2 separate regions of the Homo sapiens genome follow, and region 2 is linked to region 1. A link means that fine-mapping ties the variant in region 1 to the expression of a gene that starts in the linked region. Tissue or cell type: monocytes after LPS. Region 1 holds a variant in brackets; the other region holds the start of a gene. All regions are shown on one strand. Distances are from middle to middle.

The links. PIP is the estimated chance that this variant, and not a neighbour inherited with it, causes the effect.
Region 2: SLC22A15 starts here. The variant in region 1 is fine-mapped to the expression of SLC22A15 in monocytes after LPS (Fairfax 2014, PIP 0.90).

The regions. Positions count from the first base shown.
Region 1 is chr1:116,065,902-116,071,053 of GRCh38, forward strand. SLC22A15 (solute carrier family 22 member 15) reads left to right here. Exons shown (of 12, transcript NM_018420.3): 11 at 619-807; 12 at 1,118-4,153. The coding sequence ends at 1,207. Among named protein-coding and RNA genes, the nearest start is that of MAB21L3, 43 kb to the right of the region's middle. RefSeq lists an enhancer at 799-1,998. The variant G/GA (reference allele first, on the strand shown) is at 2,077.
Region 2 is chr1:115,973,753-115,978,904 of GRCh38, forward strand. It overlaps SLC22A15 (solute carrier family 22 member 15), which reads left to right and starts at 2,761. Exons shown (of 12, transcript NM_018420.3): 1 at 2,761-2,962. The coding sequence starts at 2,876. LOC101928977 (a long non-coding RNA gene) reads right to left here and starts at 3,524. Exons shown (of 5, transcript NR_125970.1): 1 at 3,345-3,524. RefSeq lists silencers at 2,608-2,837, 2,898-3,147.

The sequences.
Region 1 (5,152 bases):
TTCCTGAGAATATGTTTTGGATCTCTGAAACAATTGCTTGTATCACCAGCCCTTAACCATGTTCAGTTTAGAAGTTTATAAGCCATATGTATGTCGTAGGGTTGGTTTTTTAAAAGAGTTTTTACACCTTTAATCCCTGGAACTCTCAGTTACGGTCTTAAGGTATATAGGATGGTTTGGCCAATTCCAGGATTAAGAACTTTAAAGTTCATCATCAGCAAGTATTTTGGGATGCCTCTGTGCAAAGTGTGCTCACCTGGAATGGAAGCTGAACTACAAGATGTCCTGTCAGCTCTGGCCATATAGGCCTGCCTGCTCAGAGGCAGCCTGGCCTCTTCTCCTACAGTACCCACCCCGGACATGAAATTGCTGCTTCTAATGTACAGACTAGTGCTGTCCTTTTATTTACTCACTCCCATCTCTACATGCCTGAGGAATCATTCTCTGATTTCCCAGGATAATTCTTTATGTGGAAAGAAGTGGCTTATAGTGTTGTCTAGTGCGAGGTCATGAACTAGGTGGTAAACATGACAGTTTTTCAGTCATGAGACTGCTTGTATTACATGCTAAGGAAACTAATTCTCTGGTTTATTTTCATTCCACTCCCCGCCTCTGCAGAAATATGTGCAATGGTCTTTACCATTCATTGTCTTCGGAGCCACGGGTCTGACCTCCGGCCTCCTGAGTTTGTTATTGCCGGAGACCCTTAACAGTCCGCTGCTAGAAACATTCTCCGACCTTCAGGTGTATTCGTATCGCAGGCTGGGAGAAGAAGCATTATCTTTACAGGCTTTGGACCCCCAACAGGTGTGATATTTTTCTTAATTATTATACCGCTTGGATAGTGGCAGTTAATGAAAAAAAGAAGGTTTGCGTTAAATTAAATAGAACTGAGTAAAACTGCTGGAAAACAAAAGTGGGATCTAACAGCAGCTGATTTTCAGAGAAATAAGGATGATCGATGATTCATTAGCTTTCCTAGAATATTTTAGGGGCTATTTCTTGGGGGAATGAATGTCATATAAATACATTTGTCAGTTGAATAGCTAGATGGTAGTTTCCATTTCAGAAATGTCATAACATCATTTCACTGCCCTTTTCTTCTTTCCTGTTTCAGTGTGTGGACAAGGAGAGCTCTTTAGGGAGTGAGAGTGAGGAAGAGGAAGAATTTTATGATGCAGATGAAGAGACTCAGATGATCAAGTGAAGAGCCCCAGATTCCCCCTAAGAAGCAAAGGATCGTCTTTTATGCCTCTGGCTAAGGCAGGTTCTTCCATGACTCCTAAGAGAGTTGTAAAAATAGAGGCTTGGCTTGAATGTACATAGATGGTACCTGGCATGGACTGATGTTTTTAGGCACAGAAGTTGGAGAAGAGATTTCATGAAAGACAACATCACTGCATTGAGAGAATAGTTGTTAATTTGTTTAGAATTTAAGTTCTACTCAGAATCATAACATCTGGCAGAACAGCCCAAACCCACATTCCAAAGTGGTAGGCTCATTTGTTTCTAGAGATTTCATCATGTCGCTTTTCCTTCATCATGATCTAAATAAAGGCAGATATGTAAAATTTCTCACCATTTTGGTGGGGTAAGATAAGCTATTATTAAGATTTAATCCTTATACCATGTTGGACATTTGCCCCTATCAGTTGCTCCTCAGGAATCTTCTGGTACAGGTTAACATCAGCATTTTCATTTTGTGTCCAGGGAAAAGCACCCAGAGGTCATCTGTGTGTCCCGAGACCCTCCAGCTTTTTCTTAGCTGATGAAATATGAGTCCTCAGCTTGGTTCCCAGCCTGCTGATTGACTTGGGCTGCTGGTGCCTTGAGTCCCACAGATGATTCATTAGGAAAAGCCAGATATACCAAAGCGGTTTACTCAGAGTCAGGGGTGTAGCTCTGGCTGCCTGTCAGCTCCCTTGGATACTATATTGTATGATTTCTTCCTTTCCCACTAATATGCACATCCAGAAAAATTTCCATCTGAGATTCTAGTACTTCAAAATCATGCATAGTAAATGAGAAAGCTTTAAGTAGAGGGCAGTTAAACAGTGACATGTTGAGCACCTGGAG[G/GA]AAAAAAAAGGTGCAGTTTTTAATAAGAGAGAAAATGAAATTATCTTTGATAAATTTTTGTTTGTTTTGCTTTCAGCATTGTGCCATGAGGGATTTGGACAATATTTAAGAACTTCTTGTCCTAGATCAGCCCCAATCTGTTTAATCAAAATGGAAGGTTCAGTAATTTCATGGGAAACCTTGGTTTTTCATTAAGTGCTACCAACTTTCAAGTGAATCTTGTATTTGATTTCCTAAAATCATGTCTTGAAAACATGTTTTCTCATGAAACTTGAATACTATCTCAAATAGGAATATAAACCTGGAGTCAACAAGCTTAGGCAGCATTGATTTAGGTCACTTTCCCAGTGAGGAAAATTTCTGTGTTTTCAGAATTTCCATTTCTACTAACCTCTTGGAGAAAAAGAAATTGAATTAGAGGTAAATAGAAGACGTCACTGTGGCTGCTTCTGGAAGTGCTGGAAGCATCACCCCAATTGGCTCCAAATACTGTCATGTTTTCTTGCACACTGACTTCTGGTTTCCACTGTATCAGTATGTACCTTTGTAATTGTTATTTTTATGTCTTTTATGCCCTTGATTATTAGTTGGGCTCTTCATAAACAGAGGCCATCTCTACTACTGTTTATTTTTCCCTGCTGTGCCCAGAACATTGGCGTAGACACAGTAAGAACCTAGTAAATATTACTGTTTCTAGCCATCAGGGAGATTGTGGAACTCCTCCCAGTATAATTTTTACAAACTCCAAGCAAATCTGACCCAAACTCCCAAATTGTCAAGTCCTGCTTAACTTTCTCTGGAAAATAGACCCCTTCTCAACATCAGAATAGGAAGAGAGGAAGAACTTACAAAGACACTTAAAAGTTATTCTTAAATGGTGGTTGGGCATTTAAAACAGTGAACTAACATATATATAATTTTTGATTAGTTGGAGCTTTCTTTGTATTATAAGAGTAATATATCTCATTACAGAAAATTTGGAAACTATAAATTTAGAAACGTATCACCCATACGTCCAACATCGAAAGAAAACCAGTGTTATGACTTTGTTCCATTTGAAGACTAATTGGGAGTCCATCTCTCTATTGGCACTGGGTTCGATTGCCTCTGGCTAATAGAGTTCAATTAGTTCTATCCCTGGGTTTCCTTTCTTAGCTATGGGGTGGAAGATAGGAGGGGGAGATCTACAATTTGAATATGTGTTACTTAATAAGGCTAGGCTGGCCATCAGTTGCTTATTTCAGATGTGTCACTAAATTTTCCTTCTAGATGGTCCTTGAGCAAAACTTAATAATTACTGTTTTTTATTTCCACTGCCTTTATAAAATCAAAATTTTCTCCTTTTGATAAAAACTGTTGAATACTATTGATGTAGAGAATGTGTATATGTGTATATTTGCATTGATTAAATTATTGGAAAACTTTTCATTGACAGGTAATGTATTTTGGTTGTGCGGATGGTTTGTAAAAAGTATCCTGTTTTTTTAATTCTATTCAAAATTAAAAATTTTTTTTCCTAAAATAAAGCAAGAAAAATAAATGTAAGATATATAAGAAACCCCAGAGTTTCCAGGGTGAAAGTTCACATTAGCAGCTTGTCCAAAATATTTACACCTCACAAATATTTTGAAAGAAACCATGTTGAAATTTTCTGATTTTGTGAGTTACAACCACAGCCCAGTAAAACCAATACTTGTTATTTGGCTACTTTCAAGCAATGCAGATATTCTTTAGTATTTAAAAATGAGCAAATAAACAAAATGAGGCAAATAAATGAAGAAAATGAGTTTCTGAGACACTGTTTAGGTAACCATAAATCAGACAGATATTTTTATGGTGGGCAAATTGATGAAGATACTTTTAGTAGGTGATTTATATTCATAACAAATACATATTGAAATAATTGTCACTACTGTATCAGAATTAAAAACCAGCTTCACATTAGGACTTCTCCATACAAATGCTTTATCATTGGTTCTTAAATTGGAAAAATATCTATAAATGATTACATTTTTAAGCTAAATAAAATGCAGATATTTTGGCTTCTTGTGAATGTAATAAAGAATCATAAAACATAGACCTTTTTTTTGTTCTCCCAGAATGTCTCAAAATCTACAGTAGTAGCTTTGACAAGTTGGGCAAATGCAGAACCTGCTAGTAAAGTTAAGTAATATGTGGGACAGGGGTTGTAGGAAAGTTGTAGACTGATGGACACAAAAGTTAACTATCAAAATACTTTTAGAATGAGGAATATGCAAAGACAATGCATTGTGGAAAATCCATCAATGTAGTACATCAAAGGAGAAAGAGCTTATGATTACCTCAATAGAAAAATAAACATTATTTGATGAAATTCAACATCCATTCAAAATAAAAGCTATTAGCAGAGTAGGAATAAAAGGATGCTTCCTTAATAAAATAAGAGATACTATAGTAGATATGGTAAACTGGCACACAGCATCTCTTCACCTTCCTGGTACCTTGGCCTTCAGCCTTTTTTTTTTTATCATAACCCACAGTAAGAAATGCATTTTACATATTCATCGTGTCATACTTCCCCACCTACAAATATATATGTATATATAAAATATCTATGAATCATAAAAATGTATATATTTTATGCAATAATACTTAATCTTGCTAGGCATACTGATAACTTATGTTCTATTTCACTTTTCAAAATGCCATTTATAACTCAATAAATGGATATCATGACTCGCTAATAGGTTGCAACCCATAGTTTGAAATCCACTGCTCTACTCTATCTTCTTATACTACAGAAGCTTTAAAGCTAAAATGTACATTTTCTGAATTTCTTGCAGATAAGTTTACCCCTTGCAGCCAGGTGCAGTTTGGTTTCCTTCAATCAGATACAAATGGAGCTTGGAAGGTAGAAGCAAGGTGGAGGCCATACTTTTGATGAGTATGCTTTTTTCTGCTCAGATTCACAGTGCTGGAGCCGTTTGGTTTCTCTGAGGCAGTATCAGCCAGAGATGTTGTCAGTTGGGCAATACTGATTAAAATCTTAACAAGATTTTTTAATAAACCTGGAATAATACTTCTGGTATTCAAATGG
Region 2 (5,152 bases), 92 kb before region 1:
TTTGAGATCAACTTGTGCAACATGGCAAAACCCCATTTCTACAAAAAATAAAAATGAGCCATGGTGGTGTCTGCCTATAGTTCTACCTACCTGGGAGGCTGAGGTGGAAGGATCACCTGAGCTGGGGAGATTAAGGCTGCAGTGAGATGTGATCAAGCCACTGCACTGCAGCCTGGGTGACAGAGAAAGATACTGTCAAAAAAAAAAAAAAAAGAATAAAAAGAGAAAAATCACATATTAGGTCACAAAAAATTAAAACAATTTCCAAGATTTAATATAATCTCTGTCTACAAAGCATATAAATTATAAACAACACTAAAAAGATGGTAAAAAAAATAGCAACCTTTAATTGGAAACAAAAAATGCACTAAAAATAGCTCATTGGTTAAAGAAGAAATGACAATGTCATGAAATATTTAAAAGTAAAGACAACAAAAGTACCACATGACAAAACTTGTCGGATGGAGCAAAGTCCTATAGAAAGGTAAGTACAACCTTAAATATAATTATTTTATTTATTTATTTATTTCTGAGACAGAGTCTTGCTCTGTTGCCCAGGTTGGAGTGTAATGGCACAATCTCAGCTCACTGCAACCTCCTTCTCCCAGGTTCAAGTGATTCTCCTGCCTCAGCCTCCTGAGTAGCTGGGACTATAGGCCTGTGCCACCACGTCCGGCTAATTTTTGTATTTTTAGTAGAGACGGAGTTTCACCATGTTTGCCAGGCTGGACTTGAACTCCTAACCTCAGGTGATCCACCAGCTTTGGCCTCCCAAAGTGCTGGGATTACAGGCGTGAGCCACTGAGCCCAGCCACACATAATTATTCTTCAAAAAGAAATATTAAAAGCAAAGAAGCTAAACTTCAAGTCATGTGGCTAGTAAAAGAATTACAAAGTAACAAAAGTAAAAAAAAAAAAAGGAAAGAATTCATATAATCAATGAAATAAAAAAATTCACAAAACTTTTTAAAAAATAATAAAGTAGACAAACCTCTGGCAAGACTGATAAGATTGGAACAATAAAGATGAACACTATTCAGAATGAAAAATGGGACATAAACAGTTAGACCCTTATTTTTAAAAATCCCAAGAAAACAATATGAACTAGTTTATTCCAAAAACAATTTCTAAACTAGATAAAATAGAAACATTTCTAGAAAAAAAGTGGTTCAAGAAGAAATGCAAAGACATACGAATATATCTAGTTATACACACCTATTTATCTTTACCCATTATCTATAAATCTGTAATAAAGAGGCTCCCCCTGCAAAACAAGCTAAGTCTAGATGGTTGCAGGAGAGTTTTACCAAACACTCACACTCATGTTATGAAAGCACTATAAAATCTTACTGCCAAATCTAGACATAAGCATCAGGAAGAAAAGAAAATTATAGGCCTAGTTCGCTAGTCACAGATGTAAAGTCCCTAGACAAAACACTAGCAAATTAAATTTGGCAATAAATAGCAATATCGTGAGCAAGTATTAATAGGATTTATTCCAGTAAAGTTCAATATCAAAAAAACTATTACCATAATGTACCCGATTATCAGATTCAAGAAGAAAAACAATAGGATCATGTCAATAAATGCAAAAAGCACTTATTAAACTTCAGCATTTATTAATAATGAGGATTCGTAGGAAACAGCCAAAGAAGGAAACTTTTTAAACTATTAATAGTACTTATACAGAAAACGTTTCCTTAAGTAAGAGAGAGAAAAAAATCTTAAGAGTTTATAGAGTTTACAGTTTCCAACCCACTGATAAATTCAATTACAGTGAGCATTCATTTAATTGCTAAAAAAAGAAAGCAGCTGACCAGTAAAGCCTAGCTACCAATACGCTGCAACAGACATCACAATTAACGGAAAATTTTGGAAGCATAAGAAGGATACTGGCAGGTCAAGGACACTAGCTGGTCGCCATTTCTATTCAATGTTAAACTAGAAGTCATGGTCTAGACAATGGAATACTATGCAGCTGTTAAAAAGACAACACATAATAAACAAAAAGGCAAATGAGGTTAGGAGGTGGAGGCATGAGGGGACTAACGCAGGTGTCCAGCGTCCCTTGGCCCTGCCACGCTTTTTTTTTTTAATTTCCACCTGACAAACTGCCGTTTATCCTTTAAATACCTTGGCAGCCATCACATCCTGCCCCTTCGTCTTTTGCACTTCCTTTGTACCTCGTGCATACTTCTATAAGCAAATGTATCCGACGGTTTTACAAGAATTTGCTTGCCTACCAGTGTACTTAACCCATGGCTAGCACAGAATAGGACTGGAAAGAAATGCTGCACAGACAGCACTTTTCTCTGAAGGCTCTAGGGCTCCCCAAGCCCCCGCATTAAACTGGTTTGGGCAAAACGACAGGCATTGCTGAGAGCCGCCAGGCCGCCCGCCAGCTGCGGGTCCCCTGTAGGCAGAGCCCTGGGTCACACGCGGACGCGGTCCCGATGTTTCTTCTCAGGCCCTCAGCCCGGCCCACTTCCTCTTTCCTCACTTTAAGGCGCAGACAGCGGTCCCTCTCAAAACAAAACGTACACCAAAACACCATTTTTTTTTTAAACAGGAAGTCCAGAGGCCCGGGTCCAGGGCATCCAGCCCCGGATCTCGAACGCCCTCCTCGCCCCTCGCCCCGCGTAGCCCGGCTGCGCTCCCCGCTCCCCGCCCGGCGTCCACCTCTCGAGCCTGACAGCCCCGCCGCCCGCGCAGGCGCCCCGCCCCGGCCCGGCCCGCCCCGGCCCCGCCGCCAGCGCTTCCATCCCCGCCCCGGCGGGTCCAAGCCGGTGCCGGGCGCCCAGGGGTTGCCGCGCTGGGCGGGAGGGCAGCGCCTGAGAGGGCGGTGGGGTGGCGGGGTTCCTGCGCGCGGCCCGCCATGGAGGTGGAGGAGGCGTTCCAGGCGGTGGGGGAGATGGGCATCTACCAGATGTACTTGTGCTTCCTGCTGGCCGTGCTGCTGCAGGTAAGTCCCCGCGGCCCCGCAGCCGCATTTCCCTCTTCAGGGCCGCCCGGCGCAGGGCTAGGCGTCCGCTCCCAGACCGCCGGGGCCGGGGCCGAGGCCGAGGCTCTGCAAACACCGAGGTGTGGCGAGCGTCGGGGTGGGGCAGGGGCGAGGCGCCGCGCGGTGGCCTGGGCCCGGCCGGCAGCGTCAAGGTCGCCGGCCGGCCTCAGAGCCTCTTGGGTTCTGCTGGGCCCTCCACCCCGCCACCTTGAGTGGTGGAAGGAGCGTGTTGGGGGAGGTTTCTCAGCCGCTATGCTGGTTAAGGAGGGATGCAAAATTGTGTTACCTGCCCTACGCTGTTGCCTATAACACGCTGCAAATATGAAGGGAATTGTTACCCTACCTGTGGCACTGTCACCTTGGAATCTAGGACACAGTCTTGATAATCTGCAGACAAAAGGTTGTGTCTAGGATCGCCTCCCTCTGCGCCGGGTGTCCTCTGCCTCTTTTCCTGGGCTTGAGGGGGCTTACTCTTCTAGGGGCTTTCAAAGCATAGGATTTATTTCCCTCTGGTTTAAGTTCTGCTGGCTCATTCGGCCCTGCGCCAGCCTTGGGCTGAGACTCCCGTGAGCCGAATAGTGCCATCTACCATGTGTGGTTATCAAATGGAATCACTTCTTCATTATAAAGAATTCTCAGAACCTACTTGTACACCCCAGCCTCAAAATATCGATTCCATATGCGAAAGGTCACTACAGATTAACTGCGCCAGGCAAGGATTAGTCCTTCACCAACTTAAATGGCTCATTTGACATTAGTCGCTTCTCTCAATATGCCAGAGGCATTTCATTCACAAATCCTTTCTTAGTATTTGCTGTGAGCCAGCCATTTTACTCTTTCCTTCAGTCATCAGGTTTAATACGGGCTAGGATGTGCTGAACATAGGGATGCCATGGTGGACAAATCATTGACTGCCCTCAGGAGCTTGCATTCCAGTGGCTGCGGGTGGGGCAGGCAGACAGTTAAGTAATTTAGTTAGCATGTGATGATAGTTATTCTGCAGGAAGTACAGAGTGGTCATGGATATAGCCACCAGTCCACAAGTTGCTTAAAGCTTGCATAAGACAGTGGCTCAACAGGAAGATGGGGGAAGGTAGGGGTTGACTTATTGATTAAAATGTTTGGAAGTTCAGTTGATTTCATCATCAGCCAGAAACGGTTCAAATGATGGAGTCAGTTCTTTTTCTAGCCGAACAGTTCTCAGCTCACGAATATGTGGTATTCTGAAGTTCTTTTAAGCTCGTTGTTTTAGCTTTAAACAAGCTTTCCCCAGGGAGAAAAAACGTTCAAGCTAAATGATAAGAGTATTTAATACCGAGAAAGAAGAATTGCAACCATGATGCCTGATCTTTATTTATAACAGTTTCTTTGAGAAAACCCTTTTTTTCTGTTCCAGCCATGAATTCCAGGAACATACATCCTTTCTTGAACAATCCCAGCTCCCCATCCCTCTATCCCTACCCTTCACTTCCTGTTATCATTTTCTTATTTGCCTAGCCAAGTATCCACTAACTTGGAGTAAGTTTGTCTTCAGTAGAGTGAGGTTCTAAAAAGGCCAGTGTTCTCGGTTTAGGACCTGTTAAGTTTCTCTAACTTACTTTTATTTATGGTTGACCCAGTTAGTTAGAGTTTGCTATCAAAAAGTTCCAAGCCCATGCCTATGACCGTTCACTAAACCTTGGATGATTTATGGTCAGTATTTGCGGTACAAGGACCAGGTCTTAGAGTGTTGGGGATGAGTGACTGATTGTTTATCTTATAGATGTGGGTGGGAAGATGCCCTGTAGCTGTGCTTATACCAGTGGAGGAGATGCCAGCCTAGGCAAAAGTGAATCCTTCACATGCTACGTGTTTTTAAGGACTCAGTTACCCCATTGAGATACATGATCCAGGGGGTTGTAGAGCCACCCAGAGCTACCCTGGGTATGAGAGTGGATATCCCCAAAGACCTCTCTACCAAGTCTGTTGTTGGAGATGTTTTGTATTACGGCAGCTGGTCTGTGGAGTGGGAGTACTGTGGAGTCCCATTGCTCAGTTGTATCACAGGTGATTTCATCATTCTTGGGGATGAGGTTTTGCTTCCCCCAGCAGAGTAAGAAGCCCTTTTTACACAGTTGCCTTAAATGAAAGGGGGTTTTTCTGCTTTTAAAA